Linked DNA regions of Homo sapiens: region 2 is linked to region 1. Evidence: fine-mapped expression QTL. Tissue or cell type: lung. Region 1 holds a variant in brackets; the other region holds the start of a gene. All regions are shown on one strand. Distances are from middle to middle. Region 1 overlaps MPDZ (multiple PDZ domain crumbs cell polarity complex component). Region 2 holds the start of MPDZ (multiple PDZ domain crumbs cell polarity complex component).

Region 1 (10,203 bases):
TTACATCCACCAACTTACTAAGTTCACTTATTACAGCTAATGGTTTATTTGTGGATTCATTTGGATATTCAGTACACACAATTATGTGGTCTGCAAATAATTACAGTTTTTGTTTCTTCAATTCTAGTCTTTATACTTTTAATTTATTTTCCTTGCCTTATTGTATTACCTAAAACCTTGGGTCTAATATTGAATAGAAGTGGTAATAGCATGGATTTTATCCATTATTTTTTTTCTCCCATCTTTTGAACTGATCCTGTTTTTCTCCTGTATTCTGTTCATTTTGTGAATTAGACTAAACGATTTTCAAGTGTTAATTCAACCTTACATTTCTGGAATGCCCAACTTGGTCATAATCATTTTCCTCTTTAAGTATCTTTGAATTGAGTTGTTAACATTCTCATTTAGTATTTTTCTATTTATGTTTATGATCTATAGCTTTTCTGTCTAGTATAATCCTTGTTAGAGTTGGCAATTGAGGTTATGTTGGCCTCAAACAAAAAGTAGAGAACAATTCAGCCTTTTTTTGTCACAAAAAATTGATGTTAATTCAGAAAAAAAAAATGGGAAGAATTTACCAGTGAAACTCTCTAAACCTGTTCTTGTTTTATTTTTGCGGGGAGGGGGGATTTTTAATAGTGCATGCAATTTCATTGATAGATATAAAATTACTATTATTATTATTTTTTTAAATAGAGTTGCTCTTTGTCACCCAGGCTGGAGTACAGTGGCTCACTGCAACCTCCACCTCCCAGGTTCAAGTGATTCTCGTGCTTCAACCTCCCAAGTAGCTGAGATTATGGGTGCGTACAACCATGCTCAGCTAATTTTTTGTATTTTTATTAGAGATGGGTTTTTGCCATGTTGGCCAGGCTGGTCTCGAACTCCTGGCCTCAAGTAGTCCACCCACCTCGGCCTCCCAAAGTGCTGGGATTACAGGTGTGAGCCACTGCACCTGGCCAAACTATTGATATTTTGATAAATGTGTTACCAAGGAATTTGTTCATTTCATGTATTTTTTTCCCCATTTTTTTGCATATGGTTATTGCATGCCTGTAGAGTCTAATTATGTTCCTTTTTTTTATTCCCAATGCTGGAAATTTATGTTTGCTATATTAATCAGTATTGTTAGAGGTTTATCAGTTTTATTACTCTCATCTTTGTCTCAAAGATCAACTTTTTGACTTTTTTGAATTTCTTTATTGTATCATTTTCCTGTTTTGTTGATTTTTGCTGCAATATATGTTATTTTCTTCCTTTTCTGATTTGGTTTTCTGTTTTATTTTAGCTTTTTGATTCGGATGCTTAGCTCATTGACATTTTGTCTTTCCTTTTTTTCCCTCTTACATCTAAGTCTAAGTTTCTAAGCATTTATTTAGCTGCATATCCAACATTTCTGGATGTAGTTTGCAGTATATGCAGTATGTCGTATCTTCATTATCATTCAGTTAAAAATTTGTTTTAAATTCCTCCCTCCCGTTTCCCTCCTCTCCCTCTGTTTTGTTTGTTTGTTTTTACTTATATAGATTAACCTAGCTATCCCCACAATCAAGATCAGATCTATTTTATCACCACAAATATCTCCCTTATTCTATTCTTTTATAGTCATATTTAACCACTTTCTTACATTTGTAACCCCTGGCAACCTTTAATTCATTTTCCATCTCTATAATTTTGTCGTTTCAAGAATGTTATAAAAATAAAATCATAATGTATGTGACCTTTAGAAATTGGCTTGTCTTCATGCAGCATAATGCCCTTGATATCTTGAAGTTGCATATATTAATATTTTTCTTCTTTTATTTTTCAGTAGTATTTCTTATTGGATTTACCTACTGAGGGGTATTTTGTTTCCAATTTTTCACTATTATATATAAGCTGCTGTGAGCGATTGTGTATGGATTTTGTGTGGACCTAGGTTTTTATTTCTGTACAATAAATATCCAGGAGTGCAATTGCTAGATTGTATGGTAAATGCATATCTAGTTGTTTTTAGAAACTGCGAAACTATTTTTCAGTGGGGTGTACCATTTTACATTTCCACCAGCAATGTCTGAGCAATCCAGCTTCTCTACATCCTCACCATTCTGATAGGTACGCAGTGATATTTCTTTTTGATTTTAGTTTGCATTTCTTTAATGGCTAATGATGCTAAATTTCTTTTATGTACTTATTTGCCAGCCATATATCCTCTTTCATGAAATGTCTGTCTGTTTTTTTCTGCCCATTTTCTAGTTGGATTTTTTTTACTATTGAATTTTGAGTTTTCTTTATATATTCTAGATATGAGTCATATGTCAGATATATGTATCCTTGACTTATTTGATTCTACTTTAATTAGTACTTTTACCACTTTCCAAAAAATGCAAGGAACTTAAAACACTTCAACTTTATTTACCCTACTCCTACCTTTTGTGCAACTGTATGTACTTTAATTACATATATATTTAAAGCTCTACAAATTTAAATTATTTACTGGTTTAAGGAATTCCTACTGATTTACATTTTTAAACTCCTTTTTGTACTATAATACTTTCTGCATAGGGATCTTCTGAGATTTAATTTTTTTTCTGCCCAAGATTTTACTCTGGTATTTCTTTTATACAAATCTAAGGTAATTGTGTGTGGGGTGGATGGGGGTGTGTGTGTGTGTGTGTGTGTGTGTGTAAGTGTGGTGTGTGGCATGAAAAATCTAGGTTGTCAGGTATTTTTATCTTTTTTTTTTTTTAAATCATCTTGTTAACATCTGACCTTTATTGTTTTTCTTGAGAAGTCAGCTGTTGGTCTTATTGTGCTTTGAAGATTAGATACCTTTTTGCTCTAGTGGTTTTTAAGATTTTCTTTCTGTCTTGGCTTTTAGCTGTTTTGCTATGATATGCCATTCTAGTCAGCCTCTAAGATGGCCAGTATTTCTTGCCTTCTGATATTCATGCTTCTGTATATTCCCCTGTTTAATGTGGGCTGGATACTGCCTTCTTTGCATCAACAGAGTATGGCAGAAGAGTTGGTTTCTTTTTGATACCTTTAAAGTGGTTTATTTATTTGTTTTTAACAGCTTTTATACACATTTTTAATTGTTCTCAGTGGAAAGGTTACTCTGATACAGTTATTCACACAGAGTGACCTTCATTGTATATAGAACTAAAGATAAATTATGTTTTCTTGGATGCTACTCTAGAAACAGCTCTCCTAGCACACCTGCAAATGAGGAACTTCCTAAGAAGATACTGTCCATTTCTTCTGGAAGGCATATTGAATGATACCCAGGGCACTAAACAGTTGTCTATTCAGAGATGCTCTAGTTTGTGTCCTTCGCTAGCTTGTACCAGCTAAATGTGCATTTCTCAAAAAGTCATTTTTAAAGCTATTTGTACCAGTTGTATTTATTTTATAATTGCACAACTTTATTATATAATATACAAATTTATGACAAGTTTTTCTATGAAAATATTTTGATAAACTATATAGGTGAATTGATAAAACAATTATTGGTGAAATTGTTAGTTATGTTAGGTCAAACTGTAAAATATATTTATGATAAAAGATGTTTATGATTATGAAATTTGTTACAGGCTGAGGATCCCGCACACCAATGGCTAATGGCTATGGTATGTTGGCATAGTAAAAAGTATTTGGGCTTATGCTATGGTAAGCAAGATTGAACAAATTGCATGTATGAAGAAATCCTATATACAAATGAATATACATGTGTTTTAAGTTAAAATAAGGTACATATTTTTTCTTTGTTATTTTTTCTGCTTTACTTGACCTTTTGTAGTATGTGAATCAATACTGGTTCTGACTGCATCTTATAAGAGGACTTTTCCTGTACTTTTAAATACTTAGAAGGTGTTTTAGTTTGCCCTTTCACATAGAATTTGCAAACTTTTAAATTGAATAAGTTGTATAATATTTAGGTTATGTTTTAGGTAATAGCACTAATTAAAATCCATAAATTAATATATGTTTATTTGCTAAATACATAAAAGCCCCCTTTAGACTGAAATGTTCAGCCAGAACTTAAACAGAAAACAGATAATTATTTGGTGACTCTTGCTCATTTACTAACAACTTCCATAAATTATACAGAATGTTTATCTGTATATAAAAATTGCCAGATATTTATGTTTTCTTTTGTTTATTTTATATTCTATAAACCAAGGATGAGAATCAAGATCTTTTCATTAAACATTTGTGGCATGACTGCTATGAACAGACCTATCAAGGCAAATAAGATACACTCGTATTCCTCAAAGAGATTATAGTTCAGAAAGCCATTTTAATAAACAATTACAGCATAATCAAAGGTGCCTTTCTGCTTTTTCTTATGAGTATAAATTTGCCAATTTATAAATAAGACTTTTGTATGGTGGTATAATTAAATAATAGTTTTTAAATATGTGATCTCTATAACCTCTGCTTTTACATTTATGTAGACCTCAAGGTCAGGGATGAAGCAGGAGGAGTCATTGACCTTCCTCAAACCTTTAACAAATTAGGAAATGACAATTGATATTAAATACTTTTATACAGTTCTCATTTTGTAATATTTTACTTGTTCTGCTCTCACTCACTTTACTCTTAGAATGCCTGTATACCTACTCTTTCATAATATCAGAGCTTCTCTTTTACCATGAATCTCTTACAGACAGACTCTCTATTCTCGGGATGCGATTTGTTCATTCTGGCTTACCATAGCATAAGTCCAAATATTTTTTCCTATGCAAACATACCATAGCCATTAGGTCTTGGTGTGTGGGATCCTCAGGCTGTCACAAATTTCATTATGCCATCTGCTTCAACCTGAGCTGCGTGTCTTCTGCTGGCAAACTTTATTGAAGTTGCCATGGCTCAGGATAAAAAAAAAATCAATCTTGGCATAAGAAGCTTACTTTTGAAAAAATAATAATTGATCATGCCTGCTATAGATTTTAAAATAAACATTTAAAAGGATTCCCAAAAGTCTCTTCTCAACACATTGATCTCTTTTTCATCTGTGATTGTAGAAAGCTAATATAATGGTTAAGTTATTGGTAACTTTGGTAACTTAATGAGTTTTCTGTTTTATTTTTAAGGATAGGTAACAAACTCTTATGTATAGATTTTGGTGACATATTGTGAAATATTTTGATAGCTTCTGTCAGTGGATGTTCTTTACCTAATGTTTTATTTTAAATGATATCTCAAATGTTTTGTGGATAATACAAGGACTGTATGTTTTCTGTATAATACAAGGATGATAGGAACACCGTGATGAAAAAAAATCTAGGTCACAAACAACTTAGCTGTGTGACTTTA[C/T]GTAATTTCATCATCCTTAGCATTGAGATGATACTTGAAAGGTTGTTCAGGAGATTGGATCAGAGTTAGATCCTTAAAAAATAGATAAACATTTTTTTTCTGCCAATGTATGTTGAACAACTCTGTATAAGGCATTCTTCTAGAGAACGAGGGCATAGTAAAAATAAAATAGTCAAAAATTTCCACTGGAGAGTTTTTGCATTCTAGTCGGTCTCCACTGACTGGGATGAAAGCTTCATGACAGCAGGGTGTGGATCAGGTGGTAATGAGTGCCATGAATTAAAACAGGGCACAGTAAGTTCGTGGAGTATAATGGTGCTGTCTTAGATAGGAATGCGAAGGAGGACTTTTCTGTGGTGAGATTAGGCACACCTGAATGAAATAAGGAAGCATGTGGATATTTGGGGAAGAATATACCTGTTTGGTAGAGTGAACAGCTTGGCACTTTGAGGCACAGTGAGGAGGGGAGCACAGCTAGGGCTAAGTGGGTGAGGGACAGACTGCTAGGAGATGAGGTCAGAGAGTGACTCAAAAACATCAATGAAGTAAGCTTTCTGATAAGTAGTTACAGATAAAAAGTCACAATCCAGGCACCCAACATAAATATGAAATTAGGATTGACTGCATTGCTTTATTATTATTTAGATTTAACTTCAAACTCTTTTAAAAGGCACACACAAATAATTATAGAATCATTTCCCAAAGTGGGATGATCTTTTCCGTTGTTGTTACGTGTGTCATTGTACTTGGAGTTAGCCAGACAGCACGATTTGAGGGCACAGTCCTCCAGACTGCCAGTGCTGCCCCACACTTCTGATACCAACTGTGGCGAGTTAGGGTCCAGCTACAAAGTTAAAGGTATAAGGATACACAAAACCACCCTCACTTATGATGTCAGCTGCAAATTTGCGAGGTTCCCCTAGCCACCTTGAGGTTTCATAATTCACTAGAAGGTCTTAGAGAGTCTCTGAAATCTGTTAAACTCATGGTTATGATCTATGGTAGGGAAAGGATGCAGTCAAGAGTCAGCCAAAGGAAGAGATGCGTAGTGCAGATTATGGGAGGATTCCAAACTGGAAGCTTCCATTTTGCTGGGAAAGTATAACTCTCCCAGAATCGATGTGTGACAATATGTATAGAGTACAGCCATGTGTCATTAGGTGATTTCATCCTTGTGCAAACATCGTAGGGTATACTTACCCAAACCTTGGTGATATAGCCTACCACACAGCTAGGCTATTTGGTATTGCTCCTAGTCTACCAACCTGTACAGCATGTTACTATATGGAGTACTGTATGCAGTTGTAGCACAATGGTAATTGTCTGTGTTTCTAAATATAGAAAAGGTACAGTAAAAATGTGGTTAAAAGGTAAAAAATGGTACACCTGTATAGGAGACACGTACCATGAATGGAGCCTGCAGGACTGGAAGTTACTATAGGTGAATCAGTGAGTGAGTGGTGAGTGCATGTGAAGGCCTACGACATTACTGTACACTACTAGATAGTCAATATACTGTATGCTACTAGATAGCCAATATAATGGTTGAGTTATTGGTAACTTTGGTAACAATGAGTTTTCTGTTTTATTTTTAAGGACAGGTAAAAAACTCTTATGCATAGAGTTTATACATAAGTTATAAATACTGTACACCTAGGCTATAGTAAATTTACAAAAACTTCCTTCAATAATAAATTAACCTTAGCTTACTGTAACTTTTTTTTCCTTTATAAAGTCTTAATTTTTTTTTAAACTTTTGACTCTCATAATAGCACTTAGCTTAAAGCACAAACACATGTATAGCTGTGTTTGACTGTGTTGCAAACCCAGGAAGATTACCTGATCTTGGTGTTCAGCATTTTTTATTGGCGTGTTATTTCATAGGTGTGATTGATTGCCCTGCCTATATGATTAAAATTCAGCTCCGAGTTTGGGCTTATATCATGTGGCCTTGGGGCCCACCATGAAGAAGAAAGATACCTCATCACTCAGGAAATTCTGAGAGGGGAAATTCTGAGAGTTTAGAGGTTACTTCATAGGATCTGGGGACAGAAAAATATATGTGTGGATGTATATATTTATGGGTGTGTTTTAATGAGTACCCTGAAGTTGAACCCTGGCGGTAGTTTTTGAATTTTCCCATCTAATAAATGGTGCTGCATTGAACATTTAGTGATGCACACACATCTTTGTGTATTATCCTAATGTTCATCCTTGAAATAAATTTCCCAAAATAGAATTGCTGGATTAAAGGATTTGGACATTTTGAAATTTCATTTGTATGTCCTTGTACCCTTGGGATATTTTCTATGAAATAGTTTATGGAATGTCAAAATTCTTAATAATCCCTGCATTACTCTTAGGTAAATATTGCAACTTCAGCAACTTCAAATATTGAATATGCCCACGTTCCTCATCTCAGCCCAGCTGTGATTCCTACTCTGCAAAATGAATCGTTTTTATTATCCCCAAACAATGGGAATCTGGAAGCACTTACAGGACCTGGTATTCCACACATTAATGGGAAACCTGCTTGTGATGAATTTGATCAGCTTATCAAAAATATGGCCCAGGTAAGAACATTTCTTTCTGTTAGTTATTGTAATACCTGTAGTAATTTAAGAATGTGATCAAGTTATGGATAATTTGAAGAATATAGTGACATTTATAACATCTGAAAACATTGGAACAAAAAGTCAGTTTTGTGGGAGTTTAGATGGTTCAGACGTTTTCTATTACAGTTTTATCATCATTTAAATTTGAGTATTATATGTTGTATTATAGAAATATTCTTCAGGATAAAGTGCTAACAATTACCTTGGAAAAATGTTATTCAATTTCTTTTTTTTTTAACAAAGAAATGATTCTGATAAGATGACTGTTACTGCAGTAATTGGCTTTTAAGTTTTTTTTTGAGACATGCCTTGCTCTGTCACCCACACTGGAGTGCAGTGTTGTGATCATAGCTCACTACAGTCCCAAATTCCTGGGCTCAAGGGATTCTCCTGCCTCAGTCTCCTGAGTATCTGGGACTATAGATGTGTGCCACCACACTTACTAAGTTTTATTTTATTTTTTATAGAGATGGGGTCACATTATGTAGCCCAGTCTGGTCCCTAACTCCTGGCTTCAAGTGATCCTCCCACCTTGGCCTCCCAAAGTGCTGGGATTACAGGCGTGAACCACCATGCATGGCCTGGCTTTTAGTTTTATTTCTTGCTTTGTTTCCTAAACAGGGTCGCCATGTAGAAGTTTTTGAGCTCCTCAAACCTCCATCTGGAGGCCTTGGGTTTAGTGTTGTGGGACTAAGAAGTGAAAACAGAGGAGAGCTGGGAATATTTGTTCAAGAGATACAAGAGGGCAGTGTGGCCCATAGGTGAGATGGTCGCGGCGTCTTCTTTGTTTTTGATCCCACATTCTGAAGGTTTTGGTTACTATGCAGGAATTTAGAAAAATAATAATGAATGGCAACAAAAAATTGAACATAATCTGTTATTAACCAGTTTTTAGAAGTCATTAACATTGTTGTGATAAAATAGCAGGTTCTTTGAAATGAGAGTAGCTTTTAGATATAGTCATAACTTAAGTTTTGGTAAGGAAAGAAAAATTTGAGGATAACATTATTTTCATTGTTAATTAAATGGGCTCTTTTTGATTAGATTTTTAAAATTACCATGCTAGAAATGACCCATAATAATTCGAGCTGCATTTTTTTTATGTACCCAGAGCAATAATTTAATATAGTTGCCCCTCAGTATCCATGGGGAATTGGTTCCAGGACTCCTGCAGGTACTAAAATCTGCAGGTGCTCAAGTCCCTTATATAAAGTGGTATAGTATTTGTATATAGCCTGTGCACATTCTCCCATATATTTTAAATCATCTTTAACTTATAATGCCTAACACAGTGCAAATCCTATGTAAACATTAGTAGTCATATTGTATTTTTAAAATTTGTGTGATTTTTTTATTGTTGTGGCATTATTTTTTTTGAGTATATTTGATCCCCAGTTGGGGATCTAATCTATGGATGTGATCCCCAGTTGGGGATCTAATCTATGGATGTGATCCCCAGTTGGGGATCTAATCTATGGATGTGATCCCCAGTTGGGGATCTAATCTATGGATGTGATCCCCAGTTGGGGATCTAATCTATGGATGTGGAACCCATGGATACACAAGGCCAACTGTATAGATATATCCACTTTCATTTTTAGAAGATGAGAATATCCAAGATGTAATGTAGGCTGAGTAGGTAGCTGAAATAAAGAGTACTTTTATATGGGAGGGGTTCAGTAGGAGTAGCAGTGAAATAACCTTACGAGAGTTGATGACCTGCAGCCAAGGCGTGTATTTTTTTTAAAGTAGAACTGCAGGAAAAAGCTTAGAGTGTGGGAATTAAAAATAGGATTAAAAATGACTTGAACATACATGCCAAAGAAGCTGTCATTTCCTTGAGAACTCTCAGATTGTCTTTTATCCCCTTTTGCATCCTTGATAGAGATGGAAGATTGAAAGAAACTGATCAAATTCTTGCTATCAATGGACAGGCTCTTGATCAGACAATTACACATCAGCAGGCTATCAGCATCCTGCAGAAAGCCAAAGATACTGTCCAGCTAGTTATTGCCAGAGGCTCATTGCCTCAGCTTGTCAGCCCCATAGTTTCCCGTTCTCCATCTGCAGCCAGCACAATTTCAGCTCACTCTAATCCGGTGAGTACCTAAAATTTTCAAAAGGAACAGAACGTATTTTTCAAGTTGTTTTTGGTTATCTCCAAGTTTCTAATTTGTGTAGGGTCTTTGCACTTCTTGAGTTTTTGTCTGACTATTCTTTTATTTTTCCCCAGCCTGGAATATTTGTTCTTTAAGCATGATAAAGCTTCTAAGTTCTAAAACAACAATTA
Region 2 (10,203 bases), 53 kb before region 1:
CAGACTCAGAGACATACAGAGAAAGCAATACACAGAAGCTCAGAGTGAGCAGAATTCCTGAGGAACGAAGAAGCAGAGTGTAGGCAGCATGGAGTGCCTATTACCTGCCAGGCACTGTGCTGGCACTGGGGAAAGGACAGGACATTAGACAGACAAAATCTCTGCTCTCATTGAGCTTACATTCTAGCTGGATGGTGGTAGGAGACAGGAGGGAGACTGCAACAATTTTAAATAGTGATAAATGCTGCAGAGATAACAATACAGTGCAATGTGAGGTGAGAAGGGGCTACTAACTTACTGGTGAGCCAAAGACGTCTTCTCTACAGAGGTGTCATCTGACCAGTGACTTGAATGAGGAGAAGATGCTAGCTGTCTGAAGCTCTGAAGCAAAGGCTTTCTAGGTAGCGATACAGCAGCACGTTCCTGGAAGACAAAAAACAGATGGAGTGGAAACTGCCTAAAAACTTTAAAGTGCATAGAAATCACCTGGGGGTCTGGTTAAATTGAAGATTTTGATTCAGTAGGTCGAGGTGATGCCGAAATTCTGCATTTTAAACAAGCATCCGCGTGATGCATTGTTTCTGTATGCATTACACCTGGAATAATGCTCCCCACAGTGTGGTCTGCAGCCTGGTCCACACACACACAAATTAAAACTTAACCTTTAAAAATCTTTATAGCAATTGAACACTGACACAACATCCAAGCATGTCATTTTTCTAGTAATTTATTTTTAGTGCATTGGTCAGTGACACATTGGAAGTTAAAAAACAAATCACCTGACCCTTTGCAGTTAGTTTGAGAAGCAGTGTCCTAGGTCTATGATACTACAGCAGAGGAGGGAGCTATCCTATCCACCAAAACTGCAGAGAAGCTTGGTAACATTGAAATCCTAGGTACAATGGAGAGTGGAAGTAAAATGTCAGGAGCGAAAGCTGGGTATTGGAACAACCGACATTATCACCACCATCACAGGCATGCACAGATACACAGACATAAACACCCACATGCACACTCTAGACACACACGCATGCACACATAGCTTCCATATGTAAGTCCTAGCAGCCAGGCATCTATTTCTCAGGCAAACATCCAGAAATGTCCTCTCAAAAGACATCAGATGGCTATGGAGTAAAGACTTCTTTATTCTGGAATGGAGGAGCCCCTGAGTGTAATGCTTTCTCAGAAGTGAAGTACAAGTCAACAAAGCCTTGCGGTATGCACAGAGCCCCACACTGCTCACTGCCTCATTATTAAATATAAACAGACCATCCACGATTACCAGACTTTCAAGGACCCAATATAAACAAACATTAGAGGAAGAAGAAAAGCTAGATACATAGGGACAGAGGTATACTGGATTATAATTATGGTAGAATCACACAGACTGTAAGAAAATCTCATCTCTAGAGCTGCATCCTCTGAAATGACCTTTTGTTTCTGTGTGTTTGTGTTGTGACCAGAAAGATGTCACATTTTCTGTGAGACCTGGCTGTTCACCAGTGGAAACTCATGTTTTCCTTATATTCCTAGTTATCCTTTAATAAGCTCCGACTGAGGTAATCTCAGTGTGTTCCTTGAAACTTAAAAGTACCTGTCTAGCTCACTGTGAATGGCTTAATATGTGTATTTCATCAGTTTGAATGCTTTTAGTTACAAACAACAGAAAACTCAATTCAAACTAGTTTAAGAACTAAAAAAAATTTATTGGCTCATACAAGTGGAAAGACAAGAGGTGGAGTGGGCTTCAGGTAAGACATAATCCACTGACTCAGTGGTGTTTTCAATAGCTCAATTTTTTCCCCTCTGTTCTTTCTGCCATCATGAAGGGGGAGTATTACCTAAAAGATACTATGCAACTTGAACAAATTCTTTTCACTATTGTTATTGTTTTTCTTGATTTTCTTTTTGGATAACTCACTTATGCCCTCAGAGTATGCATAACAGGGAAGATATTTTGTAAGATAGTTCAAAATGTCATTCTAGCTGGCATAAACTTGAGGCACAGATTCTGGAACAGTTTGGATGTGTTTCTTCCTAAAATTAACCTGGCCCCAATGCTTTCTCCTGGAATTTCCTTATAGAGTTAGAATTTTGTGGGTACAAATGCAAATGAATTCAAGGTCAGAAGGTCATGACCTCCCAATGCCCTTTCTTTCATGCTTAGAGAGATGAGGCCTAATCAGACACACTGGAGATTTCAGAGCCTTTATCTCTCTATAAACAGTTTGTTATATGAAGAGAGACAGATTACTCTGTATGTTCTCAAAAGAGAAATAATTTTTACATTTTTCTCATTCCTGGGATTCTCTCTTAGTCATTCTCTCCCCCTAATGGCTTTCTCCTAGACACATATATATCCATTATCCTAATGTTCTTCTCTTTCTTCTTTATCTTCTTTTTTCAACCTTGACTTCTTTTCAATGGAGAGAAAAAATTAAGGATTATTTAAAATGCTTTTTAACATTGAACAAACTGAAAAAAAATTTATCTGAACTCTTCTTTTAATTGAGACATCTGAGGCAAATTGAAACCATAAAGTCAGTCAGCCAGTAGACAACATAAAAAATCTACAAACTATAATAAACTAAAACTGCACAGTTGTTATATATTAGATATCCCTTAGGTAGAGGGACTGGCAAGCATGCCATCTAGTTTGCATTTAAATGCTGCATTATTAATAAGAGTCACTGCTGGCTAAAGGTGATAAAAATAGCCCATCACCCCACTATTAGGATTACCCCAAATCAGTCCTTGGGAAAGGATTTGGTTCATAGAGTTCTAACCCTGCAGTTCTGTAGTAACATCTCCCAGCATGGGGGTCTCACCTACGTCTTGGCTATCTGCTGTTAAAAAGCAGAATGAAGACTGTGTGCTCAGCAGGCAACTAAAAGAATCCTCTGTTATTTTGGTGGATCAAAAGTTTAATTTCCAGGATCTGTCTTTTCAGCAGCCGTTAAAGGTTTTGAGTAGATAACCCGGGCCTTTCACTAGTTTTAGAGTTGGAGAGGAGCCACAAATGTAAAATAATATCATATACATAGTTTATATTTGTACTGTTCAATTATGATGAACAATAAATAATAAACCAACAATAATAATTTAAACCAATCTCAGAAGTTTCCAGGACTTTTTCCCTTATAAAAGTCCTCTGAATATGACTCAAATTTGAGAAAAACAAATTATTGTGGAGAATGCCTCACTGAGGATATAGGTGGAATGACCCCAGAGCCTGTATTAACATGAAATAGAAAGCATTATTAATCTATTTACGTATGGGGTTTCAAGCCATCCCATAGAGTAGAGCACCTCTACTCTATCTGCTTTACACTTTGTCTTTCTCTGCAAGATTTTATTTCAACTTTAATGTTTTTAACTTTTATTTTAGGTATTTTTTTTTAAACTAGTGCACTATATCCCCGGTGGATTTCTAGAAAATCTTAGGTTTTCTGGATTAGAACAAGTTAAAGAGAATAGAGCAATAGCTATACGGATTAACTTCAAAAGGAGAAGCTTCAGGGTGGAATTATCCCCAAACTCTGGATAATTTTATGCAAGGACTAATCTAAACCAGATGCCTTTTTATCCTCTGATATACTGCTGTTTAAAGAGGGCATGTGGGCTTTGCTTCGCTAAAGGAGACTAGAACAATAGCACCTTTTAAACCAAGGTAAAATTATTTGTTTTAATCTCATTTATCCACAATAAACCAGGGAATTAAATTTCTAAAACTTTCCTCTAATTCAGTTTTATGGGCTCTTTCCCTATGGTTCAATATAAAAAATGCCATTTAAAATTTTAGGACTCAAAGAATTCCTTCAGTAGCTAGTTATGAAATTCTTTTCCTCCTACACTACCCCAGCAGCTAACATTTCATGCACGTACTTCCTTTGTATTTGAGAATGACCAGATTTGAAAACTGACAAGTAGAAGTGCTATTCAAACAGGAGGATCCCTTTGGAATTTCTAAGCAATAAGAAAATCCTTTCCAAATGGGATGCCTTGAGGTGACTCTATGACAAGAACACAAAAGTTATATGGAGAAATTATTCATTCTTGCAGTCGTATATTCATCCTATTTCATATGAGTGCCAACCAAGTGTGAAGTTTTTACTAGGCTCTGAGGATAAAATGGTGACTTAGCCCCTGTTCTCATGGAGTTTATGGTTGAAGAGGGAAGAGACATTGCATAATTACAAAATCAAATGCATATTTACAAAGTAGGAAAAATATTATGAAGCAAAAGCATAGGGTACCATAAGAATGCATCACAATGGGTTTATCGTAGTTTGTGGGAATCATGTAGCATCTATGGCAGTTCCATTCACTGGGACACTGAACAAGATGACCAGGCTTGAGCAGAAGTATCACGGCTGCATTTTTTTTTGCAATCTAGGTTTGAGACAAGCAAACAGGGAAGCCAAATAAACACTTGAATATATGGATAAATCTGAAGGTATAAATGTAAGATTCTGTAGGTACGAGATCATAAGCTAGAAGTGAAAATGTATTTAGAGGTAAGAGTTAAAAGGAAAAGAGGGCCCGTAACTGATTTTTAAGGAATTCCAGCATCTAAAGATTGGGGGAGAGGAGGCAAAGAAGACTGAAGAGTGGCCTGGGGACAGGGGCAGATCTACCTGGAAATTGATGTAGCTTAACGTTCCGGGTCCTTCTCTTGCCTGGGAGCAACCCTAGCAATGTGTTTACATGGGCATTTATTTTTTGAATTTTTCTAAAGAAAGATTTTTTTTTTTTTTTTGGTTAAAGCAGAGCTCCCAATTGTACAAGCTTCAGAGCCCATACATCCGCCCTTGACTAAGCGGAAGAAGCAAAACCAAGAGTGTGATTGCATGGAATTACAAGAGGGGTGGGGTGGGGAGGACTCTAGGAAGAGAGAGGTCAACAGCTGTGAATGTGTTTGAAAGTCCAAGGAATATGAGAAAAAAGTATTTTTATTCAGAATATTAAAAGAAATTCTTTTAAATGTTCTAAATTGGACTTCTGAGTATCCTTTGGTCCTATAATCTAATATCAGAGGGATATTTTGAAAAAGAGTTTCTTATGCAGAAAAAAATTCGTGGGACTTCCAAATTGAGGATAACAGAAAGAAAATCTTAAGTGGCACAAAATAGAAATGAATATCTGTTCTTCCTGGGGCCATGCAACTCTAATAACTTTTCCATGTTTACTGTTTTTGCTTTTTAATTGGATCATCAGACTAAGAATGCACCCTGATGTGCGAAAAGTTACTTAGAAAGTGAGAGGACTGCCCCCACCCTTCTGATTAAAGCGCTTCTCATAAGCATCCTATGCCATTCAGTAAGCTACCCATGCAGAAAGCATCCACAGGGCAGTGCACATAAGGAAAATCTGAGGAGCTAGAAACAGGCTATCAGTTTCCGCAGGTTGACAAAATCGGCAGATAAAAATACAAGACTGCCATTAAATTTGAATTTCCGATAAACAACGAAGAACTTTTTAGCATAAGTACGTCCCAAATATTGCATGGGATATACTTGTACTAAAATTATTCCTTTTTTTTTTTATTTGAAATTCCCATTTAACAGAGCAGCCTATATTTTATCTGACCACCTCACAAGTCCACTACCCACACCCCAGGTCGAGCGGCCCAGGAGCGAGTTTAAAACCCCGCACAGGCCTGCTCGGCCGCGTCCCCTGATTGGCCAAGGCGCGCCCGCCGCCCCGCCGGTCGCAGGCGTCACGGCAGCCCCAGCAGCCTGGGCCCCGCCACCGCCTCCGCGGCAGCCCCGGTCGGCGCAAGTGCGGCGCGCGCTGGGGGAGGGGGCGCGGCGGAGCGCTAGGCTGGCGTCGGGCCACCGCGGGATTAAGTTTCTCAGTCACGCGTGAGTGTCTGTGCGTTTTGATCCGAAGCTCCTCGCCGGGTCGTTACTTCAGAAGAGAAGACAGTGAGCGTGGGCGAGGCGAGGCATCCAGAGGCCCCGGCGACCCCTGCTCCCCAGTCCTCCGCCCCCTCGCGTCGCGGCCCTGGGCGGGCGCCGCGAGCCGGGTAAGCGGCGCTTGAGCCCCGGCCCAGAGGCCGAGGCGCGCCCCCGCGCCCTGCGCGCGCGCCGGCGGGGAAGGTGCGCGGGCGCCCTGGGCTCGGCGCTTGGGGGTGGGGGTGGGGGCGGGGATGGGGGTGGGGGTGGGGGTGGGGGTAGGGGTGGCGGCGGGCCGTGGGGCGGTGGGGCGGTGCGCTTGCCCCACCCCGCGCGGCCCGGCGCTTCGCGGAAGCCGCTGCTGTGGCTTTTTTAAAAGGATGGGGTCTAGAAGTTTCCTTTGCTACTCGCAAGTCTCCACTCCCCCCAGCCCCGCGGTGGATAATCCTAGACCTTTCAGCACCCCCGCCACCCCTTTCTTTTGCTCTCGCTGACTAAGAGGTTTAAAAGTTTTTCCTTTTCCTTGACCCAGAGGGGCACAGTCTTGGTGTCGGGGGGCTGGGGGTGGGGTGTTAGCCTGGGGGCCCGGAGCGCAGACCAGGCCTCCAGGGCGCGGGAGCCTGTTGCTCTCCCCTGCAGGGGCCGCTCCCGGACGCCCCATCCGCCGTTACGTGGTCCCGGGATGTGCGGGTTGCGGTAGAGAGTGGGCAGCAATGCTCCTGGTCCTGCGTTCTCGCCTTAGCCGCGGGGACCCCGAGGCGAGCCGCTAATTGGTACCGGTGCCCCGTCCCTCACCCCTGGCACCGGCGCCCTTTTAACCGCCGCTCCCGTTGGTGGGAGCACGTTGGTCTTGTCTCTCCCTTAGTCTCCTCACCCCCCGCGCTGATGGGCGTCTTTGTCTGCGATTTGGCAGCCCCAGGATGCCGGATGTTACCAGGGAAGCGATGTTTGGGAGACGCTTTGTGTCTTGCGGAGTTGCGCGTTTGTTGGGTGGTGATGGTGTACATTTTTGTTTGCGTTCTTTGCAGAGGCACAAAGGCTGGGCTATTCTTGCCTGCAGTCACATGGAAATCAAGCGGAGACTGCGGGGGAGGAGAAGTGGCCAGGCGCCGGCGGGAGGTAGAGGCCGCTCCGTAGTCACTGGGGGCGAGTGGGGGCCCCTGGAGACCTCTACTGCGCGGTGCGGCTTTTGAGGTGCTCCGCTTGGGAAGACCCCGGCAATGGGCACTGACTGCCTTTTTGCAGTAGGGGCTGCGGTTGGAGGCTAGTGTTTCCTAGGTATCATCAGATAGATAAGAGGACCATGACTTCACCAGCGTAGAAGGAAAACTTCTCCATGTTCCTTGATGTCATAGAGAAGGAATCTGATAAGTGATCAGACTGCCTCGTCCTGCCTTGTAGACAGTTTGATGTAAACATCCCCTTCGTGTTTCCCTAGAAATTCCTGGTTTAGGTTACCCTTTATAGAATAAATAACACCTTATCTGAAAACTAACGAGGAGGAGGTGATGGTTTCGGGCTTGGGAGTTTTACATGTTGAATTTGGGTATGAGTGATTACAATGAACATCTTGTAATGTTGGAACTATCTAAATTTGTATAATGTATGCCTTAGCACCTGATGGAATTTTGGCAAACAATAGTGTTTTAAAAACCTAGCAAAACTTGGCCAGGCGCAATGGCTCACGCTTGTAATCCCAGCACTTTGGGAGACCGAGGTGGGTGGATCACTTAAGGTCAGGAGTTCAAGACCAGGCTGGCCAACATGGTGAAACCCTGTCTCTACTAAAAATACAAACATTAGCGGAGCGTGATGGCTCGCACCTGTAGTCTCAGATACTAGGGAGGCTGGGGCAGGAGAATCGCTTGAACCCGGGAGGCAGCGGTTGCATTGAGCCGAGATCGCGCCACTGCACTCCGGCCTGGGTGACAGAGCGAGACTCTGACTCAATAAATAAGTAAATAAATAAAAAATAAAAATAAAAGCCTAGCAAAACGTTCCTTGACTTGATCTTCTAATACAATACTAAGCTTTGGATGGAGGCACCTGTACCCTTGTGTGCAATGTAGGCAAAACTAGTTTTGGGTACCCCTTGACTCTCCGTTCTTCTTCCCTATCTCATTTGCCAAAACAAACAAACTAATGAAGATTATTCTCAACATATTACTAATAGATTATGGTGTACCTTATTTCTTACATATGTTCCTTTTTTTTTCCTTTGATCCTTTCTGTGTTTATTCTTTTCACTTACCTTCTCTAGTTCTGGTTTTCTTTGTCCCTTTACCACACTCCTTTTTATTGACTAGGCCTGAAGGTTGTGGCTTGGAAAGGGAGGGATCTTTAGTCAATTTTTAGTGTGCTTCAAAGTCCTATCACCTAGACATTGCTCTGCTTGACCCTTAAAGACATCTTTCCTTTTCAGATGCATTTAAATGTACCTAACTGTGAGGAATAGAGGCTGGTCTCAGAGTTTAGTATATTTCTACAAGTTGAAGCTATTCAGAGAGACTCTTGGAAATCCTTGATATGTAACTTTACATGGATTTAGGTCTAGTTGGCCACTTTTAGTTTTTAACTGCTAGGGTGGAGAGATTTTGCTTGACAAATGATCAAGTGAATCCATTGTCTAGAATTGAGATTAAGGGATTTAAAAGCTGGAGAGGAACAATGAATTGCCTGGAAGGTAACTATCCTCACTTAGAGGTAGATTATTTTCTCCAGATTACATCCCAGATCTGACATAGTCTTGTCTCTCTCAGGTTGAGTTGCAGGTTGGCTACATTTTGTATATTTGGAAACGTACAAAGTACTCTGAATTTCATGAAATATTTTGAGGCAAAGTTGGACTGGAATGTCCCCAAATATGGTAGAGCAAATAGCACATCTGCCAGAGAAAGATCCTACACTTTAAAGAGAAGAAGCAGACAACTTCCTGGTGAATTTAGGACTGCTTGATGGTGCGTATGAGTGATGATATATGTCCAAAACAGTTGTATGTACTTTTGAAAATAGATATTTGGCCTAAAGTAGGATTTCATTTGATATTGTTACGTACATTATCAACCCCATATTTATAACAATAAAGGTTTCATTTTTTCTTGTAAATTAGTGTCATGCATAGGAGAGCATTTATATAAGTACAGTTCGGAAATGATATTTAGCATGGTAAAATTGATATACTGTGATTAAATAATTTTAGTGGGATTCCATGTGGGAGAATAAGACTAAGGAGGTAAATAACTACTTCTCGATAAAGGAAACCAGTGGTGAGGAATCCATTGCCTTCCTGTGATACGTTTCCAGAGAAGATCCGAGGTATTCATGTAGTAGGTAGTAATAGATGGATTAGGAAGAATGTTGTATTGGGTTAGGCATTGGGGAGAGTACAGAATAAACATGATTCTGCTCCAGAAGTGTAGGGTCTTAGTTGGAGGAATCTAATGGGAGAAATAACAGAAAGGTTTTACATGTTAAAAATGTTACAGGGATTCTAGGAAAGTAGTGAAGTATAGGGATTAGTTGCTCTTATCATTGAGGTTAGTAAATAAGACACAGAAAGGCTTTGGTCTTGAGATGAGAGGGTGGAAATGAAAGTTTTTTTGATATGAAGTAGAGCTTAAGTCAGTGGTTTTCCCTTGAAAATGGACATGTATAGAAGAGGCTGGGATGTGAGTGGGCAGTGGGTACTGGAGAGCATATTCAATTTGTATATTTCTGGAGTGGAATAGAGGATTTGTGCCCAGGGGAAAAGGTTGGATAGGGAAGAGCAATTAATGGAGAGCAATGAAGTATAGGCTGACTTTTATCTCTTGAAGTTTCCACTTTCCAATAACCCAAGTCACATTTCCTTCTGAGAGTTAACCTCTTCAGTGCAATCTGGGCTTTTTCTAACATGCACCCTAAAACGTTTGTAGCCATTACCTATTACCCAGTTCCAAAGCCACTTCCACATTTTTGGTGTTTGTTACAGCAGCACCCCATTTCCTGGTACCAAAATCTGTATTAGTTTGATAGGGCTGCCTTGACAAAATAACACAGAGTGGGTGGCTGAAACCACAGGAATTTATTTCCTCACAGTTCTGGAGGCTGGAAGTCTAAAATCAAAGTGTTGGTGGGATTGGTTTCTACCAAGCCTCGCTCTTTGGCTTGTAGATGGCTGAGTTCTCCCTGTTTCTTCACATGCCCTCCCTCTGTGTATGTCTATAGCCTAATTTTTTATAAGGGAACCAGTCATATTGTGTTAGAGCCCACCCCTAGTGACCTCATTTAACCTTTATCTCCAAATACAGTTATATTGTGAGGTACA

The links. PIP is the estimated chance that this variant, and not a neighbour inherited with it, causes the effect.
Region 2: MPDZ starts here. The variant in region 1 is fine-mapped to the expression of MPDZ in lung (TOPMed, PIP above 0.99). The same link has a PIP of 0.9 or more in aorta, breast, esophagus mucosa, fibroblasts, unexposed skin and visceral fat.

The regions. Positions count from the first base shown.
Region 1 is chr9:13,222,042-13,232,244 of GRCh38, reverse strand. MPDZ (multiple PDZ domain crumbs cell polarity complex component) reads left to right here. Exons shown (of 47, transcript NM_001378778.1): 4 at 7,662-7,871; 5 at 8,535-8,674; 6 at 9,799-10,012. Among named protein-coding and RNA genes, the nearest start is that of MPDZ, 53 kb to the left of the region's middle. The variant C/T (reference allele first, on the strand shown) is at 5,299.
Region 2 is chr9:13,275,225-13,285,427 of GRCh38, reverse strand. It overlaps MPDZ (multiple PDZ domain crumbs cell polarity complex component), which reads left to right and starts at 5,736. Exons shown (of 47, transcript NM_001378778.1): 1 at 5,736-6,028. RefSeq lists enhancers at 6,113-6,828, 6,829-7,544, 7,545-8,260.